Homo sapiens: one gene and its partners. The gene in region 1 interacts genetically with each later gene. Each region holds a gene or a part of one and is shown on either strand. Other genes may lie near its edges. The genes, in order: MAN2A1, SEC24A, ARL5A and VPS45.

The links.
Region 2: changes in MAN2A1 (region 1) and SEC24A together harm fitness more than expected from each alone (negative genetic interaction), as found in Homo sapiens cells (one large-scale study listed by BioGRID).
Region 3: changes in MAN2A1 (region 1) and ARL5A together harm fitness more than expected from each alone (negative genetic interaction), as found in Homo sapiens cells (one large-scale study listed by BioGRID).
Region 4: changes in MAN2A1 (region 1) and VPS45 together harm fitness less than expected from each alone (positive genetic interaction), as found in Homo sapiens cells (one large-scale study listed by BioGRID).

Annotation. Positions count from the first base shown.
Region 1 is NC_000005.10:109,859,957-109,865,743, reverse strand, and holds part of MAN2A1 (alpha-mannosidase 2), read right to left. Parts: intron 709-5,787; coding exon 598-708; intron 1-597. UniProt on the Homo sapiens protein: Catalyzes the first committed step in the biosynthesis of complex N-glycans. It controls conversion of high mannose to complex N-glycans; the final hydrolytic step in the N-glycan maturation pathway.
Region 2 is NC_000005.10:134,671,201-134,676,987, reverse strand, and holds part of SEC24A (protein transport protein Sec24A), read right to left. Parts: intron 5,180-5,787; coding exon 5,102-5,179; intron 2,374-5,101; coding exon 2,213-2,373; intron 1,944-2,212; coding exon 1,771-1,943; intron 966-1,770; coding exon 863-965; intron 1-862. UniProt on the Homo sapiens protein: Component of the coat protein complex II (COPII) which promotes the formation of transport vesicles from the endoplasmic reticulum (ER).
Region 3 is NC_000002.12:151,820,895-151,826,681, forward strand, and holds part of ARL5A (ADP-ribosylation factor-like protein 5A), read right to left. Parts: intron 1-5,787. UniProt on the Homo sapiens protein: Lacks ADP-ribosylation enhancing activity.
Region 4 is NC_000001.11:150,072,666-150,078,452, forward strand, and holds part of VPS45 (vacuolar protein sorting-associated protein 45), read left to right. Parts: intron 1-3,567; coding exon 3,568-3,647; intron 3,648-4,250; coding exon 4,251-4,319; intron 4,320-4,428; coding exon 4,429-4,566; intron 4,567-5,003; coding exon 5,004-5,114; intron 5,115-5,787. UniProt on the Homo sapiens protein: May play a role in vesicle-mediated protein trafficking from the Golgi stack through the trans-Golgi network.

The DNA of each region.
Region 1 (5,787 bases):
TGAGGATCTGTTTGGCCTGCACGGTGTGTTGACTCATATGCAAATCTGCATTAATCAGAAGACCAAGACCTACATTTATTTCCCAAGGGAAAACAACTGATTGGCGCTACGTACAGCTGCCTCCTGGGCTGTGGGTGGATTATCCCACTAGCCTACAGTCTCAATTTTCCCAGTTGCTTCTTTATGGCTACCTCTATAAGCTTCAGTTATTATAAACTTGCCTTGGCCTCTGTAGGACTTAGGTTTACCAATGCTGAACTAGATGATATGTGAGCATGTGTGGTTCAGGGGAGGAGAAAACTGGGGGACTGGGAGCAAGGCACTTTGTAGGCTGGAAATAGAAGGCCTAGGAAATAACAAGAGCATTGCCTTCAAATGTGCATAAATTCCAGCTATGCCTTTTGATGTCAACAAGGAAAGGAGGCTGAAGTTTTGAGAAAGTGCATTTTTCAGATGGGGAGATTCAAACTAATTTGCAGACTGATGAAACTGAGACAGTAAAGAAGCAATGAAACATGATCTTATTGTCAAGATCCTTTGCAGAAAGAGGATTTCAAAGCACACTAACAGTAAGCAAAAATAACCTTTTCAACTTACCTTTCCCTGAGTAGTAGAACAAAACAGCCCTGTGCCTTTGCTAGAGAACCGACAATCAAACCCTTTTCTGTGGAGGATCAAGGCTGCCTCATTGGAGTGCCCATTGCCCACCTGCAAATGAGCAGAATGCAGTCACACCGCGCAGACAATAAAGCAAATATTTATGGTACTTCACACACCACTCTCTCGATGTCAGCATCCAAAAGCACATTTATTTAGCAAGAAAGTTAGGCAAATTCATTTCTCCTCAGGTCCATGCTCACTGCCCATTCACCTGCTACCATTCTCTCCTACTTGTACTGAGCCAGGTAAGATTATGTTCTAAGGTTCCTTGTTAGGTAACCTCATGCCTTGGTTTCCCCTATAATCCCCGAGGACTTAGGTTTCCTTATGTCCATACATTATATATTGTTTTATTAAAGTTTATTCAAATAAAGCATTATGTTTTCGTCTTATTTTTCAAACACACACATCAGTTGAATAAACTGCACCTGAACTTAGTCCTTATCTGGTCATTGAATGACATACCATCTAACTTAAAAGTCACACATGCTTCTTTATTGAACATTAATTTTTGCTAACTGCATTCTTAATCTTTGATGTACTGATTCATTATTTTTATATCAGAGCTATTTAAATTTAGTTATGCTTTCACTTGGTAGGCCAGCTCACATTTACCAGCTTGATGTATCATTTAAATTGATACTGCAGAAGCTATTGTTGATAGGCAGGCAAAAATAAAAATACTAAACATGACAAGTCAGCTAAGAGGGTCAGTATACCTTTTCTTGCAATAAAATTTCTCATATCCATTTAAGTATCAATGTCATGAATGGTTTAGGCCTCTGAATATTTTAAAATACAATTATCTTAATAAATTTTGTTTCCTAAAGTTGGAAGGTGTTTATGATAAATGAATTAAAAATCCCTGGAAAAATTAAGAAACATACAGTTTTTGAAAAGAGTCATGTGCTGCTCAGCACTGACATTGTGATAAAACTGATTCTTTCCTCTGTTCTCTGGCCACAGACAGGAATATGCCCAAACGCCTGATCATCCTCACTAGGGGATAAGATTTTTTAATGTACTAAAGAGACATCTTTCCTGAATAGCTGCCAGAATCTCCACCACTGATTTGATTTTAATGTGCCTGAACAGTTTAAAGCTGTCCTCACCTCAGAGTCTTGGCTGGAATAACCTATGTTATGATGTTTCACACTGATATTTTGTAGGGGTACTGCTAAGATTTTGTTTGAAGGAAGAGAAGAGTCATTTAAGGAATTCTGAGTCATCACAAGACCACATGATACACACAGCAATTTTAAATCATATGATAAAAATTTCTAATTCATTTCAATACATTTAAAACACCCTGCCCATGTACTATAAAAATAACACATAGGAAAACCCTTCATTTATGGTATCATTAGATCTCCAAAAGAATAAGAAACAGGACTCTATCATGTGCCAACTGTGAAACCTTAGGATAGTAATTTCTTCTTCCTAAATATCTATTTTCTTGCCTGTAAAATGGAGGTAATGCTTGTATTATTTCCTTCATGGAGTCACTGTGTGGATTAACCTGTTGAAAATACTATGTAAGTAGCTTCACACTGCCTTGTAGGGCAGAATGCGCTAGTGCACGAGCTGTGTAGTAAGAGTGGTTCAGAGCCTGAGTGGGGAGTCAGACAGCTGGAGATCTGGATCCTTGCTCTGCAATTTACTAGCTGTGGGTTTCAGCAAAACCAGGTTTTCCTTTTCCATAAAATGAAGATGAAATGAAATGAAATAGCTTAACAAAGATCTGGCCAAATGTCTGGCACACAGGAAGCCCTTAGCATAAATTTCCTTTATTTGACATTACAACTTTGTAGCTAAAGACTCAGGGAACTCCTAAATTATATGTCTAGAGTCGTACATCAAAGTCATAACAAAGTCTGGATTCAGATTAACAGATTAGAAACCCTCTTCATTAAGCTCTTTTAAAAGCACATATCACTACTAACCTAAAGCATTTGTCCATTTTAACTCATGGGTCCATCCTTACATATCACTTGATAGCATGCATGGCTAAAATTCCTGCAACACATTTGCTCTTGGAATAATGAATATGTAAGGCCTTTATAGCAACAGAAGGGGACAAAAAATGTGGGGAGGGAAACACCTTTGGAATTCTACATTTGAATTCTACAAGAGATTTAAACCGACAATACAAAAATAGAGATAAAAGTCATAAAAATTAACTTTCACTGATAGAAAAAGTTATACTTTCTCTCAAAACTAAAATTACATCACTTTTGTAAAAACGAACTGAAATAGCAATCATCTTGTCCAAGTTTTTAAAAAATCAAATATTCATGAAAGTATCAGTTTTCAAGCAAAAATACCTGAGGCAAAGCAGCAGTTTTTCAGTTTCAAAGTCTGTCTAGACATTTTATTTCCAAGAAAACTGTTTTTCAAAGTAGGGAAACTGTGAATTTAACTTGAATATGCATGCAGGAAAACAGATACCTTCAAGCAGTCACACTGTATGCTCTAGGAGAGTAAACAGATTTTGGAAGAACTGCTTTTACATTCATTAATGCATTAGTAATATCTGGACCCCATAAAATGGGAGGATGTGGGGAAGAAAATTTACAATTTTTGAAATTGTGCCAAGCACTGTGGTAGGTAACTATCTTTGTAAAACAGATTAGATCACTTTCGAGGCTGAATTACTGAAGTAAGGCTGGCGTATTCTAAAGTTGCACAGAGAAAACCCATTGCAAACTTAATTCAGGGGATAAAACCAACATTCAGCTCATAGACTAAGCTGGGCCTCTGAGGCTCTTCCAGCAACTTGGTGGAGTATGGGGAAAGATGATTTGGTTTGCAGAATGAAGCCATCAGATAAAGCTGGGCTTAGAGAAAGCTGGATCAGACCAATGATTTTTTCTACCATGAACCATTTATGTGACTTTGAGTAAACCTCTATAAATTCAGCAAGCTAAGCTGGACCTGTGAAGAGTCCCTCTGAAGACTGAGGGTCAACCGCAGTGACAATATCAGTCATTGCTAATACCTGTTGAGCACTTGCTGTGTGCCATATCCTGTACAGAATGCTTTTCATCAATTAACTCATTTTATCGCACAACAACCTTTGAAATAGTTGAGGTGATATATAAGTTTGTATTAAAATATGTAAATATACGAGAAAATCTCTATCACAAAGCATTCTCTCTTATACTCAAATAGCAATGACCACCAGTGATCCTGGATTAGCCCTTAGTCTTCTCCCGCCAATGGATGGGATATCCTCTGTAGGTGTCCTATTATTACTGAAGACACAAGAAAAATAGACAGTGTATTCCCTCACATTTTCAGTGCTCCCTCTCCCTTCTTGTTCCCATGCAAGACAGTATAAGGTTCTGAGAAGCCATCTGGACTCAGACACACCTGAGCGTGCTCCCAGGACCACATTACTGGCTGTGTGCCCTTGACAGTTATCTATCATATCTCTAGGTCAGTTACTTTCCTATTCTGTAAGATGGGATGAAAATATTGCCTACCTTCTTAGGGTTGTTGTGAGAGCTTTAAATAAAGTTCATGTAAAGCACTTGGCACAATGCCTGGCAAACAGACAATTTTAGATATGTTATTTTTAAATATCTGAGGAATTATTAACAAAGTATTAAGTTGGTGCAAAAGTAATTGTAGCTTTGCCATTACTTTTAATAGCAAAAACTGCAATTACTTTTGTACCAACCTAAAATATCAGGAATAAGTCAAAGTGACATCAAGATTTACTCTGGCAATGTTTTTACCTCATTATTAGTGACAACTGCCGTTGTTCATGACTGAACTATCACAGGTGAGAACCTTTACTTGTCAAGCACTCATAGGGCTTACTATGTGCCACATGCTGTTCTAAGTGCTTTACTAACACTAAAATTATCTCCAATCCTCAGAACATCTCTAAGGTGAGTATTATTACCATCTCCATGTTACTAAGGAGTAGCCTGACACTCAGAGAGTTAAGTGACTTGCTCTAAGTCTCATGGTTAGAAAGCAAAGGAGACATGCTCATACCCAGGACATCTGACTCCAAAGTTTAAGCTTTTAACAGCTTCCTTCTCCTACCTTTGCACTAGCTATGAATTTGTGCTCATAGATACCTAGCCAGGAGAGAAAAGATAAAAAATATTTTTGATGTAAAATAACAAAATACTGTAAACTAAAGGAGGTAACCCCTCCAATTTATGGCTGAAAAAGGAGAGTATTGACTGATGGTTCCAGCAGAGATAAAACTATAACTTATCAAAAAATATATCAATTCAGAAACCAAGCTTTGGAAATTGTAATTTCCTTCCATCTACCACCTATCCACCTATCCATTCACCCCACTTCAAATAGGATTTGAGCCATTCTGAAAATTATACACACATGACAGTCTCTTTTAAGGAAAAAAGCAGGTGAATAGTCCTCTACTGAAGATCTTAAGATGTGAGTTATGTCATTCCTCTCTCGCACCAAAAGAAACAGTAAACTTTTGGAAACTGTAGTAAACATTATGTGTGCAACCACCGTTTGTGGGGAAGAGAGGGGCCATAACTTTGGCCAAATTCTCCAGGATGCATGGGACCCCACCCTCTTCACACGGTTAGTAAGGTGCACATAGATTAAGGCACGGCTACACATCTGGTGGGAAAATTTCTCCAACCCACTCAGATTCTTTGAAAATACCTAACACTCATCCCTAGTGCATTCTGGCAGCTGGAAAGGTTAGAAAATTACATGCTTCATTATAAGTCCTAAGATGGTATTATAACCAGTAGAAATTCATTTTTTAGGGTGCTCATTAAAATGTCCAATAATAGCTATCCTGTTTTGATCAACAAGATAAAATGACAGAAAGAAAGGGAAGGTAAATGGCTGTTCTGAGATACGTACAACAAAGGAATTTTTTTTTCTCACAATTTTCACCTTTCCAGAAGCTAGGGAGATCAATAAAGCACCAATCAATTCTTATAAGAAAGACAAATAAAGTAAAATCCTCAAACTGCCTTTTATAAGAAAAGAAGAGGCAGAATGAACAAGTGGAGAGAGAAAATCTTATTCAGTAAGTGGTGCTGATATTGAAATGATGGTTAACTATTTGCAAGAAACAGTTAAACACAAATCAAAATAAATTACATAGAGAAAGAGTTAAGA
Region 2 (5,787 bases), about 25 Mb from region 1:
ATTCATTTATTTAGTTTCTCTCAGTACCTCTATTCTATTCAGTACTTTTTGAATTTTCCAGCAATATACTTACTTTACCTAGTATTTGAAAGTGTTTAGTAATAAAATTTTTGGTTGAATTGTAAGTAATCTGTCAATCATCGACTTCCTAAAGACAGATCAAACAAATTCTATATGTAATTCTTGCATCATTGCAGAAAATTTTCATCACCAAGATAATTTTGCACAAAAGACATTTACCTTCACTAAAGAGGCCGGGTGTAGTGGCTCAGGCCTATAAATCCCAGCACTTTGGGAGGTGGGCAGATCACTTGAGGTCAGTTCGAGACCAGTCTGGCCAACATGGTGAAACACCATCTCTACTAAAAATAAAAAAATTAGCTGGGTGTGGTGGCAGATGCCTATAATGCCAGCTACTTAGGAAGCTGAGGCAAGAGAATTGCCCGAACCTGGGAGGCGGAGATTGCGGTGAGCCGAGATCTCGCCACTACACTCCAGCCTGGGCGACAGTGAGACCCAGTCTCAGAAAAAAAAAAAAAAAAAAAAAAAGAGCCGGGCGCAGAGGCTCACGCCTGTAATTCCAGCACTTTGGGAGGCCAAGGCAGGTGGATCACGAGGTCAGGAGTTCAAGACCAGCCTGGCCAAGATGGTGAAACCCCCTCTCTACTAAAAATACAAAAATTAGCCAGGCACGGTGGCAGGCACCTGTAATCCCAGCTACTAGGGAGGCTGAGGCAGGAAAATCACTTGAACATGGAGGGCAGAGGTTGCAATAAGCTGAGACTGCGTCACTGCACTCCAGCCTGGGCGACAGAGGGAGACTCCGTCTCAAAAAAAAAAAAAGAAAAGAAAAGAAACATACCACTAAGTCTTTGAAAGGATGAAGCAGCAGCCCCAAAGGAAGTTTGGCTTTATTCAATAAGGCCTGCGTCTGAGGAATGCTAGTCAGCGTGCATCGAAATAACCTATATCAAAGTAAAAAGTATGTATCAGTTGCTGCTATGATTATTTTTGAAGAAAACAACAACAAAGATTTAAAAGGTATACATTTTAATACTGGATCAGATTACAGATGAAATATTTCAATAGAGTCTCAAAATTTTATCCCATTTAAATATTTAAATCTAAGTCCTATGCAGAAATAGAGTGGATGGTTATCCTATAACTAAAATATAGTCTCTTTTTGGCTTGTGTGTAAAACAGTCTAAACTATCAAATGACTTATTTTTTGTTTTGTAAGTCTAGTTGACACTGGAATTAAATTAAACTTAGGTGATGGCCCAAATTGCAAAGTCTATTATTTAAAAGTTCAGTTTTGCTGAAGATTCTAAATACAATTTAAAGGTACCAAATTTAATTTATCAGAAATTATTGATCATATACATTTAAGCTTATGGTAAGTTTTTAGGAAAAAAAGGTATTATGTTTGTTATGAAATTAATTTTAAATGAGAGCAAATAAAGGATTATGTAGAAACAAATCCCTGTACTTTGGATTTTGAAGAAAGAAAGTAACCACCATAATGATAATGAATATCATAATCTCATTAGAGCTGATAAGAACAAAATCACTTCAGGAGTTACATCCCTATTTCTTGACGTAGGACTTTTCAAATCTCTATTAAGTAAACAAGTAAAAGAGTTCTATCATCTGTATCCAGAACTTTCATAAATTAATAATTTGTACAGCTTATTCATAACACCTGATGTGCCCCCTGCAAAAAGCTAGAAAACTTTTCGGACATGCATAATGTCACATCTGAAGCCTTACTCTGGGTTACAGTTGAGTTTCTGGATGTCTTCATGCAAATTTGGAACTGGAGGCTTCAAAGGTGTTGACGGAAGCATGTTTCTTTCTTGAAGAAGATTGACAACTCTTAGACCCTCTGGTTGTAGACTTAATCCACTCATGCTTGTGGTTAAATGATTAGCACCTAAGGGAGTCTACAGATACATAATTTTAAAGTAAGTAACTTTTATTAAGTGTGTAGGGAAGTGGTTAATTTCTCTGTAAATAACAAAAGTGTAATCTAGATCTCTTGGCCAATCTTTTGGTTCTGGAAAAATGTATAAAGACAAAGGCTTTATGAAATATCCATTATTATTCTAAATGGTTATAAAAATGTATAATATACCTTCCTAAAACTTTCTTCATGTGTATACAGTTTAAACCAAATGGAGAAATAGGTTAAAGAAAATCCCAAAAAGTTTACCTGAGTAAAGGCTTGTGGCCCACTTGGGTAATTCAAGGAAGAGGGTGGTACTCCAGTTGCACCAGGTGGTGTTGTGTTCTGATAACCAGGTGGTAAGGAGGGATATGAATATCCAACACTTCGGCTCATTTTGGGATTCTTGTTAGTAAGCTGTGGTGTTGCTAGAAACAAGGTAACTTTTAAGTTCTATTTTATACTCCAGAATACTTGATTTATTTATTTTAAAAAAACATTTTTTTTGGAGAAAGGGTCTCACTATTGCCCAGGCTGCAGTGCAGTGGTGCAATCACACCTCACTGCAGCCTTAACCTCCTAGGTTCAAGTGATCCTCCTGTGTCAGCCTCCCAAGTAGCTGGAATGACTGGTGTGTGCCATCATGCCCGGCTAATGTTTTTGTATGTTTTGTAGAGACGGGACTTCACCATGTTGTCCAGGCTGGGATTACAGGCGTAGGCCACCATGCCTGGCCCAGAATGCTTTAAATCAACACATAAATCTAATAAGTTATAGGTATTATAACTCCAAAATTCTTTGGATAATTTAATACTTTCATTTATCAAATTTTTAAAATAAGACAAACACCAGTAACAAATAGCAATGACTAAAATCTATTTATTTTATTTTATTTATCATTTTATTTTTCGAGATGGAGTCTCACTCTGTCGCCCAGGCTGGAATGCAGTGACACAACCTTGGCTCACTGCAACCTCTACCTCCCGGGTTCAAGCGATTTTCCTGCTTCAGCCTCTCGAGTAGCTGGGACTACAGGTGTGTGCCACCACACCACCTAATTTTTGTATTTTTAGTAGAGATGGGGTTTTACTACGTTGGTCAGACTGGTCTCAAACTCCTGACCTCAGGTGATCTGCCTGCCTTGGCCTCCCGAAGATAGGATTACAGGCCATGAGCCACCGTGCCCGGCCAAAAATCTTGTTAATGGATTTACACTAGTTAATATTTTATACTATAGTAGTAGACACAAAAACTAGTTTGCACAGTTAATTTACTTTCATGTCGGCTGGGTGTGGTGACTCATGCCTGTAATCCCAGCACTTTGGGAGGCTGAGGTGGGTGGATCACTTTGAGGTCAGGAGTTGGAGACCAGCCTGGCCAACACAGTGAAATCCCATCACTACTAAAAAGTACAAAAATTACCCAGATGTGGTGGCATGTGCCTGTAGTTCCAGCTACTTGAGAGGCTGAGGTGGTAGAACTGCTTGAATCCAGGAGGTGGAGGTGAGCCGAGATTGTGCCCACTGCACTCCAGCCTGGACGACAGAGGGAAACTGTCTCAAAAACAAAAACAAAAACAAAAACAAAAACAACAAAACAAAAGAACAGTTAATTTACTTTCATATCATGTACTAAATTTTGTATTCAGACTAAAATTTTAATTCAAAACAACTTTAATTATAACATCCTGGCAGGGCGAGGTGGCTCATACCTGTAATCCCAGCACTTTGGGAGGCCGAGGTAGGTGGATCACAAGGTCAGGAGATCGAGACTATCCTGGCCAACGTGGTTAAACCCTATCTCTACTAAAAATACAAAAATTAACTGGGCGTGGTGGCACGTGCCTGTAATCCCAGCTACTCGGGAAGCTGAGGCAGGAGAATCGCTTGAACCAGGGAGTTGGAGGTTGCAGTGAGCCAAGATCACACAACTGCACTCCAATCTGGGCGACACAGCAAGAATCCATCTCAGAAAAAAAAAAAAAAAAAAAATCCTAAATGGGCCGTGTGAGATGGTTCACACCTGTAATCCCAGCAAATCGGGGAACCAAGGCAGGAGGGATCTCTTCAAGCCAAGGGTTCGAGACCAGCCCAGGCAATATATTGAGACCCACCCCCCCATCTCTACAAAAATAAAAAAACTAGCCTGGCATGGTACCATATGCCTATAGTCCCTGCTACTCAGGGAGGGTGAGGTAGAAGATCGCACGAGCCCAGGAGTTTGAGGCTACAGTGAGCTATAACAGTGCTACTGCACTTGAGCCTGGGTGACAGAGACCCTGTCTCAAAAAAAAAAAATCCTAAAAGTACTCTATAGTCAAAACATAATAATAATAAATCCATGATCCCAATTCTGACAGAAGAAAAACTTAACAAAAAATCTAATGCATAGAAATAAAAAATGTTAAATAATAGAGCCAGATGTTATGGCACATGCCTATTATCCCAGCACTTTGGGAGGCAAAATGGGCAGATCGCTTGAGCCCAGGAATTCAAGACCAGCCTGGGTAACATGGTGAAACCCTGCCTCTACAAAAAATACAAAAATTAGCCAGGGCCTGGGCATGGTGGCTCATGCCTATAATCCCAGCACTTTGGGAGGCCGAGGCGGGCAGATCACTTGAGGTCAGGAGTTAGAGGACAGCCTGGCCAACATGGTGAAACCCTGTCTCTACTAAAAATACAAAAATCAGCAGGGTGTGGTGGCGGGTGCCTCTAATACCAGCTAACTGGGAGGCTTAAGTGGGAGAATCACTTGAACCCAGGAGGCAGAGGCTGCAGTGAACCGAGATACTGCCACTGCACTCCAGCCTAAGCAACAGAGCGAGACTCAGTCTCAAAAAACAAAAACAAAAACAAAAAGCTGGGCATGGTGACACGTGGCTATGGTCCCAGCTACTCAGGAGGCTGAGGTGGGAGGACTGCTTGAGCCCAGGAGACTGAGGCTGCAGTGAGCCATGATCGCACCACTGCACTCCAGCCTGAGCGACAGAGTGAGACCCTGTGTCCAAATAAATAAATAAATAAGTTAATAGTATGTATGGCTACATGATTATGAAGTTTCCCTCTTAGTTTCCTATATATTTGTACAATTACCACATATTATTTCTATAATCAGAAAAAAGAGATTAAAAAAAAAACTTTCATAGCATCTCACCCAATAAGCCACCTCCTTCAATCTCGTCGTAACTACTGTGGACCACCATAGATCCGTTATTGGTATTTGATGTAATACCTAAGAAGGAAGTTCATCAACAAGATTTTAATTAGAATGATTATTACAATCTCTGTATGATTTTAACTAATATCCAAAATTTTAAATAATTTTCTAAACAACAAATAATTTAAAACCACAGCCTATTAACAACATAAAAAATCCAAGTTTTTACATATACGATAGTTTCAAGTAATTTAGCTGCAACTTCAGGGAAAGGAAACATGAGTCTTTGGAAAGAGTCTTTTTTCACCTTACATTGTACCTAAGCCAAAGGCCCAAATAACAAGGCTTTTTCAAAACCTACTCCAGCAAAATAACTTCTAGCAAAAGATGGTTCTTTATGAAGTTTATAAAATTATATACCATCTGAAAGATTTCAGCAGTTGTGAGAGCTGCATTAAAAACCTCTAAGGAGCAGTACACAATGAAAAAAAATTATCAAAATCAAAACTACCTAAAGAAAAAGAGGCCAGGTGCGGTGGCTCACGCCTGTAATCCCAGCACTTTGGGAGGCCAAGGCGGGCGGATCACGAGGTCAGGAGTCAGAGATCAGCCTGGCCAACATGGGGAAACCCCGTCTCTACTAAAAATACAAAAAAAATTAGCTGGGTGTGGTGGCGCGTGCC
Region 3 (5,787 bases), on another chromosome or scaffold:
GCTATGAACAAGAGGAGAGAAATTAGCCAAGGTCTGAAGCTTTGGAGGACCCATAACCTTCTGTCTGCACCTGAAAGTGAATAACTAAATCCAGGTAAGATCATTAGATAAACATGATGAAAAAGGATGAGTGTGACAAAGCTAGCTAAGCCTTAGCCCAAATCTTCCCCTAACTCTTCTTGACCTACGTACTAAAACTTAGAAAAGCTGCTCTACTCAGTCTCTAGAACATGTCATAAACTTTCCAATCATTTAACTTTGCTCATGCCATTCTCCACACTACAATCTTACTCTTCTGCCTACCTATTTTACAAATTCAATGAATTCCTATATACTTACAAATGCATAAATATGCAACCATGCCCCCAAACTCTTAAGACCTAAGCAGATTTCTAAAGTCAATCAAGGGAAACCAAACTAATATATTTGAACATATCATATTCTTACCAAATGGTTAAAATACTTCAAAAACAAAAAGGAGGAAAGAAACTCCAATCAAACATAAGCAGAACCTGGAAAATATCCAAAAAAACCACATGTAGTCATGTGGTCTGAGATCTCTGGAGGGCCATTCCAATGAAGAATCCATGATCCAGAGGATCTTTACCTCCTTACTCCACCCAAACACCTACAAACTACATTCATTACAAAGTTCTAGTTGCTTCCTCCCAAGACGTAGCTCTATTTGAGTTTTTTTGTATTTTCACAATAAAGCACCAATGACTTTTTTGAGACGCAGTCTCGCTGTTGCCCAGGCTAGAGTGCAGTGGTGTGAGCTTGGCTCAATGAAACCTCTACCTCCCAGGTTCAAACGATTCTCCTCCTGCCTCAGCCTCTCAAGCAGCTGGGACTACAGGCAGGCACTACCATGCCCGGCTTTCTTTTTTTTTTTTTCTTTTTTTTTTTTTTTTTTGAGACGGAGTCTCGCCGTATGCCCAGCTAATTTTTTAATTTATTTATATTTATTTATTTAGAGATGGAGTCTCGCCCTGTCGCCCAGGCTGGAGTGCAATGGCATGATCTCGGCTCACTGCAACCTCTGCCTCCCAGGTTCAAGGGATTCTCCTGCCTCAGCCTCCCGAGTAGCTGGAACTACAGGTGCGCACCACCACGCCCAGCTAATTTTTGTATTTTTAGTAGAGACAGGATTTCACCATATTGGCCAGGCTGGTCTTGAACTCCTGACCTCATGATCCACCTGCCTCGGCCTGCCAAAGTGCTGGGATTACAGGTGTGAACCACCTGCACGTGAATCATCAGAAGTTTACTGTGCCTGGCCTAATTTTTGTATTTTTAGTAGAGATAGGGGTTTTGCCATGTTGGCCAAGCTGGTCTTGAACTCCTGACCTCAGGTGATCCATCTGCCTTGGCCTCCCAAAGTGCTGGGATTACAGGCATGAGCCACTGCGTCCCGGCCACCAATGACCATTTTTAATAGCTTCCTAAATCTAAGACATAGCATGTGGGTCACAATGAGAACTATAAAATTAAGACCAAACTGTGCAATGGGCTCAAAGACAAACGTGTCATCTCAATAATAGGGTCAGATTAGTCACAAAGTTTTTAATAGTAGATCAATTTCCTCTGAACATCCTTACTCTCACCACCACAGCCTGTTCCTTTCATTAGCAAGATGGAAAAGCATCTATACAAAATGTAAATTTGTAGCCAAAAAGTGCTATAATGCACTTCGAAATAAAGACTTCATAGAATCCCAATATGCCTACTACAAGAATGTTATTGTGGACAAATGCAATAAAACTTTCAGCCATTCCAACTCTTTGATGCACAAGAATCATCAGAAGTTTACTGCTTAGTATGATTTTTCTTTTAGACTATGTCACAGCATTCCTGTATTTACTCAAATAAGCCACAACAACTGCACTGTTCTAATGCTTTGATGGAACTGTGAGTTACCAATTAGGCTTTAACATACCAATCAATACTTTACTGTTTTGTCATGAAAATTGCTTCTTGTTTCCCTTTTCCTTCATTTCCTTTTGACACAGGCAGTCTACCAGTTCCATTCATTGCCAGTTTTTAAAAGTTAATATATATTCCCCCAACTCATCAGTCAATAAATTAAGCATAATAATAATTGTTATTGTAGAGAATTACTATCTCTGTGAATCATACAACATCAGAAAACACAAAAACACCAGGGCAAATAAATGGAGAGTCCTCTTGATTCATCATTTTTACCTCATATCTGAACTATCACTAAGCCCTATTAATTCTATGTCTCTCAGAGCAAAAAATTCCATTTGTCATATTCACTATAGTTCTCTTAGTCCATAGGACAGCTCCTGGAATAAAGCATGAGCTTAATATTTTTCATGAATAAATAAATCAGATCTGGAAAATATAAAGGTTAGGAGAGAGATATCTGCTTAAGTCGTTTTGTATTAAAAGTTCAATTTTTAAAACTTAAAAGTCTTAACAATAAAAAGAAAGTTTGAAAATAAACTTGCTATTACAGTAATGGTAAATTAAGTTTCAGGGGAATAACCAAATTTTCTTTTGCACTATGAGGTTGCTGAAAAAAAAAAGCAATGATTACACATGGCAAAATTAGAGATCCAATCAGGAGGCAGAAATCACACAATAATTTGAACTTGGAAAGTTCAACATCAAAAAAATATTACAGGGGACTGGAGTAATGAGAGATTGGCTAAAAGATTATGGGAATGTCAAATTTAAGAAGCACTCACTATCCCTAGGGTTGAGATAAAGGTCCTCCCCCTCCCTCCAGACTTAAGATGCAGATCTCGTTGGAGGGCACAGATAGTGGCTCACTGAATGGCAGAGAAGTAGCTGTGGTGAGGTGCCAGTGGAACCTGCCCAAAAATCCTCCCTCTTCGGTGCTGAGGAAAACTGTTTATTGAGAGGTATTTCACTGGAGACCTTCCATTATGAAACCAACTAAGACGGGTACTAGGGGAAGCTGTTGGCTGCTGCTGACCACTATGCAGTACAAGAGCCAGGCCTTGGAGACGGTGTTCATGCTACAAGCAGAGCCCGTCAAGAAAGCACACTATAACTAAGTACAAACACCCTTTCCTCCTACAATGCCTCTCCAGTGCAGCCTACTGACAAAACTTAACATTTTGCCCAGTGGCAAAAGAAAAACGTTTAAAGGACCTAGCTCCACTTCCACAGAGCATGCAAAAAGGGTTTACAAATGGTCTCTGACTTGTGATGTTGTAAAAGCAACACACATTCAGTAGAAACCATACTTCGAGTACCCATGCAAAGATTCTGTTTTTCACTTTCAGTACAGTATTCAATAAATTACACGAGATATTCAACCTTTATTATAAAATAGGCTTTGGGTTAGATTTTGCCAACCTGTAAACTAACATAAATGTTCTGAGCACGTATAAAGCAAGCTAGGCTAAAGCCATGGTTTTCAGTAAGTCTGGCATATTAAACTCATTTTTTACTTACTGTATTTTCAATTATCTATCTATCACAAATTATCAACTATCACAAATTGAGGAGCATCTGTATTAGAAGCTAAGACACAGTCTACCCCTTGGCTACTCAGCTTCCATATGTACTCTTCTCTACACATTTAAACTCCCTAATAATAATAATAATAATAATAATAACAACAATAATAAGCCAGAAACAGAGGTGGCTTCCTCAGCATCAGGTTCCTGAAGCACAGGCAGCTTCTCCTGCACCCATTCATACTTATAATTCCTTTTCTAGCAACCAACCAAGAGAGCAATACAAGGCTATTAATGAGGAAATTCCACAACTTCTTTTATAGTTCACATCAGTCAGTTCTTTTTATCTGAGTCCTTCTTATACAAAGTCCTTCTTACACGAAGTTGTGTGCAAATGTGCGTGCGTGCATGTGTGTGTAGAACTAACTCTGGCACTAGATAATCTTGTTAAAATCCAGGTGTGTGTGCGTAGGAGAAATAACTCCGGCACTACGTAATCGTGGTTAAAATCCAGGTCTATCACTTTTACCTATAGTGCTTAAAGCAAGTTACCTGTTTCCGTACCCCTGTAAAATAAGGGGAATAATATCTACCTTGTAGGGTTGTTGTAAAGAGTAAATCAACTAAGTGAATATTAAATCAAACAACCTGTGTGAACCTTGCACAAGTGTTAACCACTATTATTTTACTTGTAGAGACAAAGTGAGTTAATTTCCTGTCTCCCAACACTACATGAAAGCTCCATAAAGGCAGTGGAATTTGTCTGTTTTGTTCCCTTATCCCACCATGTAGAACACTTCCTGGACTAAATAGGTGTTAAAATATTTGTTTATTGAGAACAAGTAAACCACTGATCACAAGCTCTTCTATAAAAAAAAGTTACTAATGGCAACTTTTCGAAGTTCTAAAGACAACTTAGAGATTAGCAACTGAAAAAGTTAATGGGGGGAGGAGGAGGGAGGGAAAAATGATGTCAATCTCTTCTTTAAGAGATTCCTTCAGGGTTTTAACTTGCCTGGCTCTGGCATATACCAGTTGCATGGCCTGGGGAAAAAAAATCATTCCACTTAAGCCTCAGTTTTCCCTTTTCAGGGGAAATAACTACTTCAAAAGATTGTTAAAACATAAAATAAAATAAAATAAAATGATTTAAATGACAGCATCTAGGATAAAGTTTGTACTCTACTGAATCTCAGTATCAACTAAATGTGACCTCTGGTTTTTCTAGTTCGAGCGGTATACAAATAGCTTTCACTGTGCACTCAATCTGAGCTTTAACTGAAAAAGCTGTTCTCGAGGGGTTTCAGAAACAGGAGATACTGCATAGTTTAAGTTTCATCAGATGGCAAATTCTGTAATCTCCCGAAACATACTTTCCAAGAGTTTCTATGAAAAGAAAGTAAGATTGCATTCTGAATCCACTGAAGGTAAAACAAGAGCATCCAACACATATCTAACTTATATATGTCCTATACAGAAAAAAAAAAAAACAACCCTGCTGGGCACCATGGCTCAGGCCTGTAATCCCAGCACTTTGGGAGCCCAAGGCGGGTGGATCACGAAGTCAAGAGATGGTGACCATTCTGGCCAACGTGGTGAAACCCCATCTCTACAAAAAATACAAAAATTAGCTGGGTGTGGTGGCACGCACCTGTAGTCCAGCCACTCGGGAGGCTGAGGCAGGAGAATCGCTTGAACCCAGGAGGCACAGGTTGCAGTGGGCCAAGATCACACCACTGCACTCCAGCCTGGTGACAGAGCAAGACTCCATCTCAAAAAAACAAAAACAAAAACAAAACCCAACAAATATCTGGCATTAGATTAAATGGTGGATATTCGGAAAAGTGACCCTATTGATAAGACAGCCACACTGTTTAGCAGAAAATAAATAATTTATTCACACTTTCACAATATTCATATCTAATTTTCTAGAACTTAACTTCATTAATTTCTCTATTAATTTCCGCCAAACTGCCATAAATGTCCCGTCAAAAATTACCACAAAATACAGGTTATAAAAACACTACTATTAGCAATTTGTAGTGATACCAGAGCACACACCCTTATTATTTACTACTCCAAGGAGCTGTTGGCAAAGTTCTCATTTATTCTTAACTTACAGAAACAAATAATTTTATCATTGACTCAAAATAGAAAGTGGTGATAACTCTTTTTCTGGCAGCACTAGAGCTCAATTCACAGTCTTGCTAAACCTCACAGCAGATGAAACACTAGCTTTGCTAAAAATAATACAAAATGATGGATGTTAAAACTAGAATAGATCTTATCTACTATAAGTACCATCAGTCTTACAGCAATGTACGTTTTAATATTT
Region 4 (5,787 bases), on another chromosome or scaffold:
AAAAATACTTTTGACCAATATTCTGTTTCAGAGGGCTAAATGTGATTTCCATTCATCTTTGATTGCTTAAATTAAAAATTTTACATTTTACTTTGCCTTTCAAGATGCTTTGTAAGTCAAAAGTTTTAAGTAGACAAATTTCACATCTCACCCCTGCCAAAAAAAAAAAGTATATACTTATCCCTGTTTTACACTTAAAAATTGAGGCATGGAAGCTGATTTATTTTTTGAAGTGGGAAGGTAATACTTGAGTTTGCTGGAAAAGCAGAAATTTACTTTACATACCAGATAAAAGCCTTTCACTTCTCTTTGTTACTATATTTAATGCACTGAAAGTATAAATCATCAGGTAGTGATCTCTTATGTGCACAACTTTCTTGGAGTGGGGGTTAGGTAGGGGAGATCTGGAAATAAACTAGGTTTGTGTTTACTATACAATTTACATGGATTTTTTTGATCCAATACATTCGGCTGTAGAAGTTACATCTATTCTCCTCTAGATGTCATTATTTATCTTTATGTTAATAGTGTTAGTGTAGTCTATTTGGTAACATTTCCAAAACCAAGGACTAGATTTAACAGTAAGTAGGGCATTTGAGAAGTTTTAAAGCTTACTTAAAGGTATTAGAGTTTTAGGGTTTAGACTACAGTCTAAGACGTACATACTTTCTTCAGCGTATACTACTTAAATAGAATAATGATACAAAAAATTAACATTTGCGAAAAGACTATATATATATAAGAGCTCTCTCATATTTTATTTCATTCAGTTCTGTGTAGAATTGAAAAGTTACATAAAGCTTGTCCAGTGGGTTTTCAGTGCACGACGCCCCAAGAGGTAAAAATAGGCAATTTTATTAATCTGTGGCAACTTAATTTTTGTTTGTTTTTGTCTGTTTGTTTTTGGCTAATAGTCACAGGTTTTCTTTTTAAAATTAAACTTTCTATTTTGAAGTAATTGTAGATTCATGTGCAGTTAAAAAAAAAACAACGAATAATAATACAGAGATCCCAGATACCCTTTACCCAGCTTCCCCCTGTGTAGTATCTTACATGATGATAGTACAATATCACAACCAAGATGTTAACACTGATACAGTCAGGATACACAACATTTTCATCTCTATAAGGATCCCTTTTATTAGCTTATATGGACTTCTGTCCCACCCCAACCCCCTCATTAACCCTGGTAACCACTAATATTTTCTCCATTTTATATTTTGTCATTCGAAGAATGTTCTATAAATGAAATCATACAGCATATAATCTTTTGGGACTGGCTTTTTTCACTCAGCATAATTCTCTGGAGAGTCATCCAGGCTGTTCTGTGTGTGTGTGTGTGTTGTTTTTGTTTTTTTTTTTTGTCCGAGAAGCAGTCTTGCTTTGTCACCCAGGCTGGAGTGCAGTGTCGCCATCTCAACTCACTGCAACCTCCACCTCCCGGGTTCAAGCGATTCTCCCACCTCAGCCTCCCGAGTAGCTAGGATTACAGGTACACACCACCACGCCCAGCTAATTTTTGTATTTTTTTTTAGTAGAGACAGGGTTTCACCGTGTTGGTTGTCCAGACTGGTCTCAAACTCCTGACCTTGGGTGATACGCCCGCTTCAGCCTCCCGAAGTACTGGGATTACAGGCATGAGCCACCACACCTCACCTGTTGTGTGTATTAATAGTTCATTCCTCCTTTGAGCTGGAACTGCAAAAAAAAAAGTTTTCTTAATTTAAAAATAGTTCATTTCTTTTTATTGCTGAGTAGTATTCCATGGTATGAATGTACCACAGTTTGTTTAACTATACACCATTGAAGGACATATGAGTTATTTCCAGTTTTGGCTATTACAAATAAAGCTGCTATAAATATCTGTGTACAGATTTTTATGTGAACATTAAGTCTTCATTCTCTGGGGTAAATAACCCCCAGGAGTGCAACTGCTGAGTCATATGGTAATTCCATGTGTGATCTGCCCACCTTGGCCTCCCAAAGTGATGGGATTACAGGTGTGAGCCACCGCACCGAACTTTTAAAGACATACAAAAGTAGAATAGTATCATAAGTTCCAATGTACCTATCAGCTGGTTTCAACAATTATTGAGCCTCACCCAATCTTGTTTTAGCTATACTGTCACCTACTTCTCCAGCAATATTATTTTAAAGCAAATCTAAGACATTATATAATTTTATCCATAAGTATTTCAGTAGGCATCTCTAAAAGATAAGGACTCATTTTTTTAAAAAACACATTTCCATTATTACATCTAGATTAAAAGTGAAAAATAATTATTTATTCTTTTTTTTTTTTTTTTTTTTTTTTGAGACACAGTCTCCCTCTGTCACCCAGACAGAGTGCAGTGGCATGATCTCGGCTCACTGTAACCTCAACTTCCCAGGTTCAAGTGATGTTGCCCAGGCTGGTCTTGAACTCTTAGTACCATTTTCAAATAACCATTCAGCGTTCAAATTTAAAATTGTCTTTTTTTTTTTTTTTTTTTACAGTTTTTTAAAATCAGGATCAAAGTAAGGTTCACACATTGCTGTTGGTTGATATGTTAAGTTTCTTAATCTTCTGTATAGGTCCTCCCACCCCTGCCCCTGCTGCCCCATGCAATTTATTTATTGAAGAAACTGTTAAGTTTTCCACAGACTGGATCTTGCTGATTGCATCCCCAGGGGGTAGTTTAACATGTTCCTTGAAGTTTAAAATATTCCTCTGTCTTCTAGTTCCTGTAAATTCATAGGTGAATACAGAGCCTTAATTAGGTTAAGATTTGATTTCTTCTTGGCAAGAATACTTTATAGGTGGTATTGTGTGCTTTCATTGGCTGCTTATTCTTTTGATATTAGTAGCTGCTGATGCTCAATGCCTGGGTCCATTCAATTGATTCATTGGGGGTTAGAAAAAATGATGATATTCTAATTCTGTCATTAACATTTGTTAGTTATTGTTGAGCTGGAATGTTTTCACAAAGAAAAATTTTCCCTCATCTATTTGGTTACCTGGTAGTACAGTTTATATATAAAAGACAGCATGAAAGTTTACTTCTTTCTCCTTATTTTCAATAAAATGACTTACTTCCCTAGTATTCTCATTCTCCAATTCCTCCGATGGAGTCTTCCTCTATCGCCCAGGCTGGAGTGCAGTGGCCTGATCTGGGCTCACTGCAAGCTCTGCCTCCTGGGTTCATGCCATTCTCCTGTCTCAGCCTCCCGAGTAGCTGGGACTACAGGCGTCCGCCACCACGCCCAGCTAATTTTTTTTTGTATTTTTAGTAGAGACGGGGTTTCACCGTGTTAGCCAGGATGGTCTCGATCTCCTGACCTCATGATCCACCTGCCTCAGCCTCCCAAAGTGCTGGGATTACAGGTGTGAGCCACCGCGCCTGGCCAGTCCTTTTAAAATATATATATATATATATATAAAATTATGAATTTGTGGATTAAATATATTTTTGCTACCCATTCCAATTTGAAGGTCACTTATTCATTAGGCTTTAACTATCAGGCCCTTTTACATATATTGCAGCAGAAATTATCTCCTTTGAGTCAACCCCAACTCATGTGTTTCAGATTTCAGTAATGTGATCAGCAAGAGTGACGTGAAGTCATTGGCTGAAGCTGATGAACAGGAAGTTGTGGCTGAGGTTCAGGTAAACATATTGGTCCTGTAACACATCTCGTATGTTGGCCCTTTTTAAATATTTGAGTCTAAAAATAAAAAATAAGGAAAGGTCTGTCTCAAAAGAAGTTTTATTATGAATACTTGAATATGTTTATCACATAAATGAGGAATATTGTTTTCAGAGGCAGCAAATAAACTAGTTTTGAATTTTTCAGAAGGATGTGATAGGTGATAAATGAATAAAAAGAATACCTGTTTTAAATTATATTCTCTCTCATGACAACACATTGGACAGCAAAGTTCTTTTTTATCTGAGTAGAACATTGTATCTCCTATTAGCAGTATTTTATTTTTACTAATTGATAAGTATGCATAGAGGTCTCCAGAAATATAATGTGTATAACCTTACAACCTTTATTTGTTAGATTTATTATTATTGCTACTGTTTTGTAATTATTTTAATTCTCCCACGTTGACTGTTGTTACCCAATTATTAATTGAACAATTTAGTATCTCTTTACACCTGTATTTCACAAAGTTTGGCTATATCATATTATATCACTTATGAAAATATTACTGCTTGATACAATTGAAGTTTATGGAATGACTATTCTTGGTGCTTTATTTGCAGGAATTTTATGGTGATTACATTGCTGTGAACCCACATTTGTTTTCCCTCAATATTTTGGGTTGCTGCCAGGTATGGAAGGAAAGGTTTAATTTATCAGTCGAGAGTTAATTCAGCAAATAATTAGACTTGTAAGAGAAAATTCAAATATTTTCTCTGAATATATGTTTTTAACAAAAAGGGTCGAAATTGGGATCCAGCCCAGCTATCTAGAACAACTCAAGGGCTTACAGCTCTCCTTTTATCTCTGAAGAAGTGTCCCATGATTCGTTATCAGCTCTCATCAGAGGCAGCAAAGAGACTTGCAGAGTGCGTTAAGGTATGGCATTACCTATTCCTGGTTCCAAAACATAAAGGCCATTCATTTCTCTATCATATTTCAGAAACTAAAGGAATAGTTTATTTACAACCAAGGAGATGATTGTATGTTAGGTTTCCGCGAAAAGAGGTAGGTATATGTAATTTAAAACAAAAAGCAACAATTAGAGCTAAGATTCTTAGGTTTAACCCAAGAAACATTCACAAGCTATTTAACTTTTTTTGGTCCAGTTAAACCACTTATAAAATAGGGTTTCATATCCTAACCTCTTAAATAGTATGCTACTAAACTTTGTGAGACTTTTGAATCCTTCATATGGAAGATCTATGTGGGTGCAAAGAACTATTGTTAAATGTAGTGTTTATTAATTTCCTATTTATATCATTTCTATATGTAACTAGATGGTTGCACAAACCATCTTTCTCTCTCACCCACAGCAAGTGATAACTAAAGAATATGAACTGTTTGAATTCCGTCGGACAGAGGTTCCTCCATTGCTCCTTATTTTAGATCGCTGTGATGATGCCATCACCCCATTGCTAAACCAGGTACAAAACCCTTTCTTGGCATAATAGAAGGATAATTTTAAGTGATATTCATCAAAATACAGATAGGGAAGTAAAAACATGGTCCATTTATTTGCCTCCTTATTTTTAGCTATTCTTGGTTTTGCTTTGTATTTCCTGGTGTTTTGGTATCATGATTCTTCCATCCACTGTCATCATAACTCTTCTGCTTCATCTCTCCTGTACCTTTCTGCCAGTACCTCCACCCCTAATCAAGACAGCTTCTTAATTCTGTAGATTCTATTTCCCTGTGTTTCCTTCTGTCTCCTCATTTCCATGCTTACAGCCATTGCCTTGGTCTAGATCCTAATCTCTTGCAAGAATATTGAAATAGTCATCTACTTCGTTCCCTACTTTTTATTTCTTCTCACTCCAAATGTTCCACAAGTACAATTTCCTAAAGCACAGCTCTATCTTATTACTCTTGGCTTAAAAAACTTCATTGGTTCCCATTTGCCTACTAGGTTAAAAAGAAACTCCTGAACTTGGCATCCAAGAGCCTTCACAATGTGGGCTAAACCTCTTATAAAACCTAGAGTTCACCACTTACATAGATAATGCCACATGGTTTCCTGCCAGCATGCTTTTACTGTGACTGCTTTCTAAACTCTAGAATGTTTGGAATACCTTCTCTTCCCATCTTCACCTATCAAAA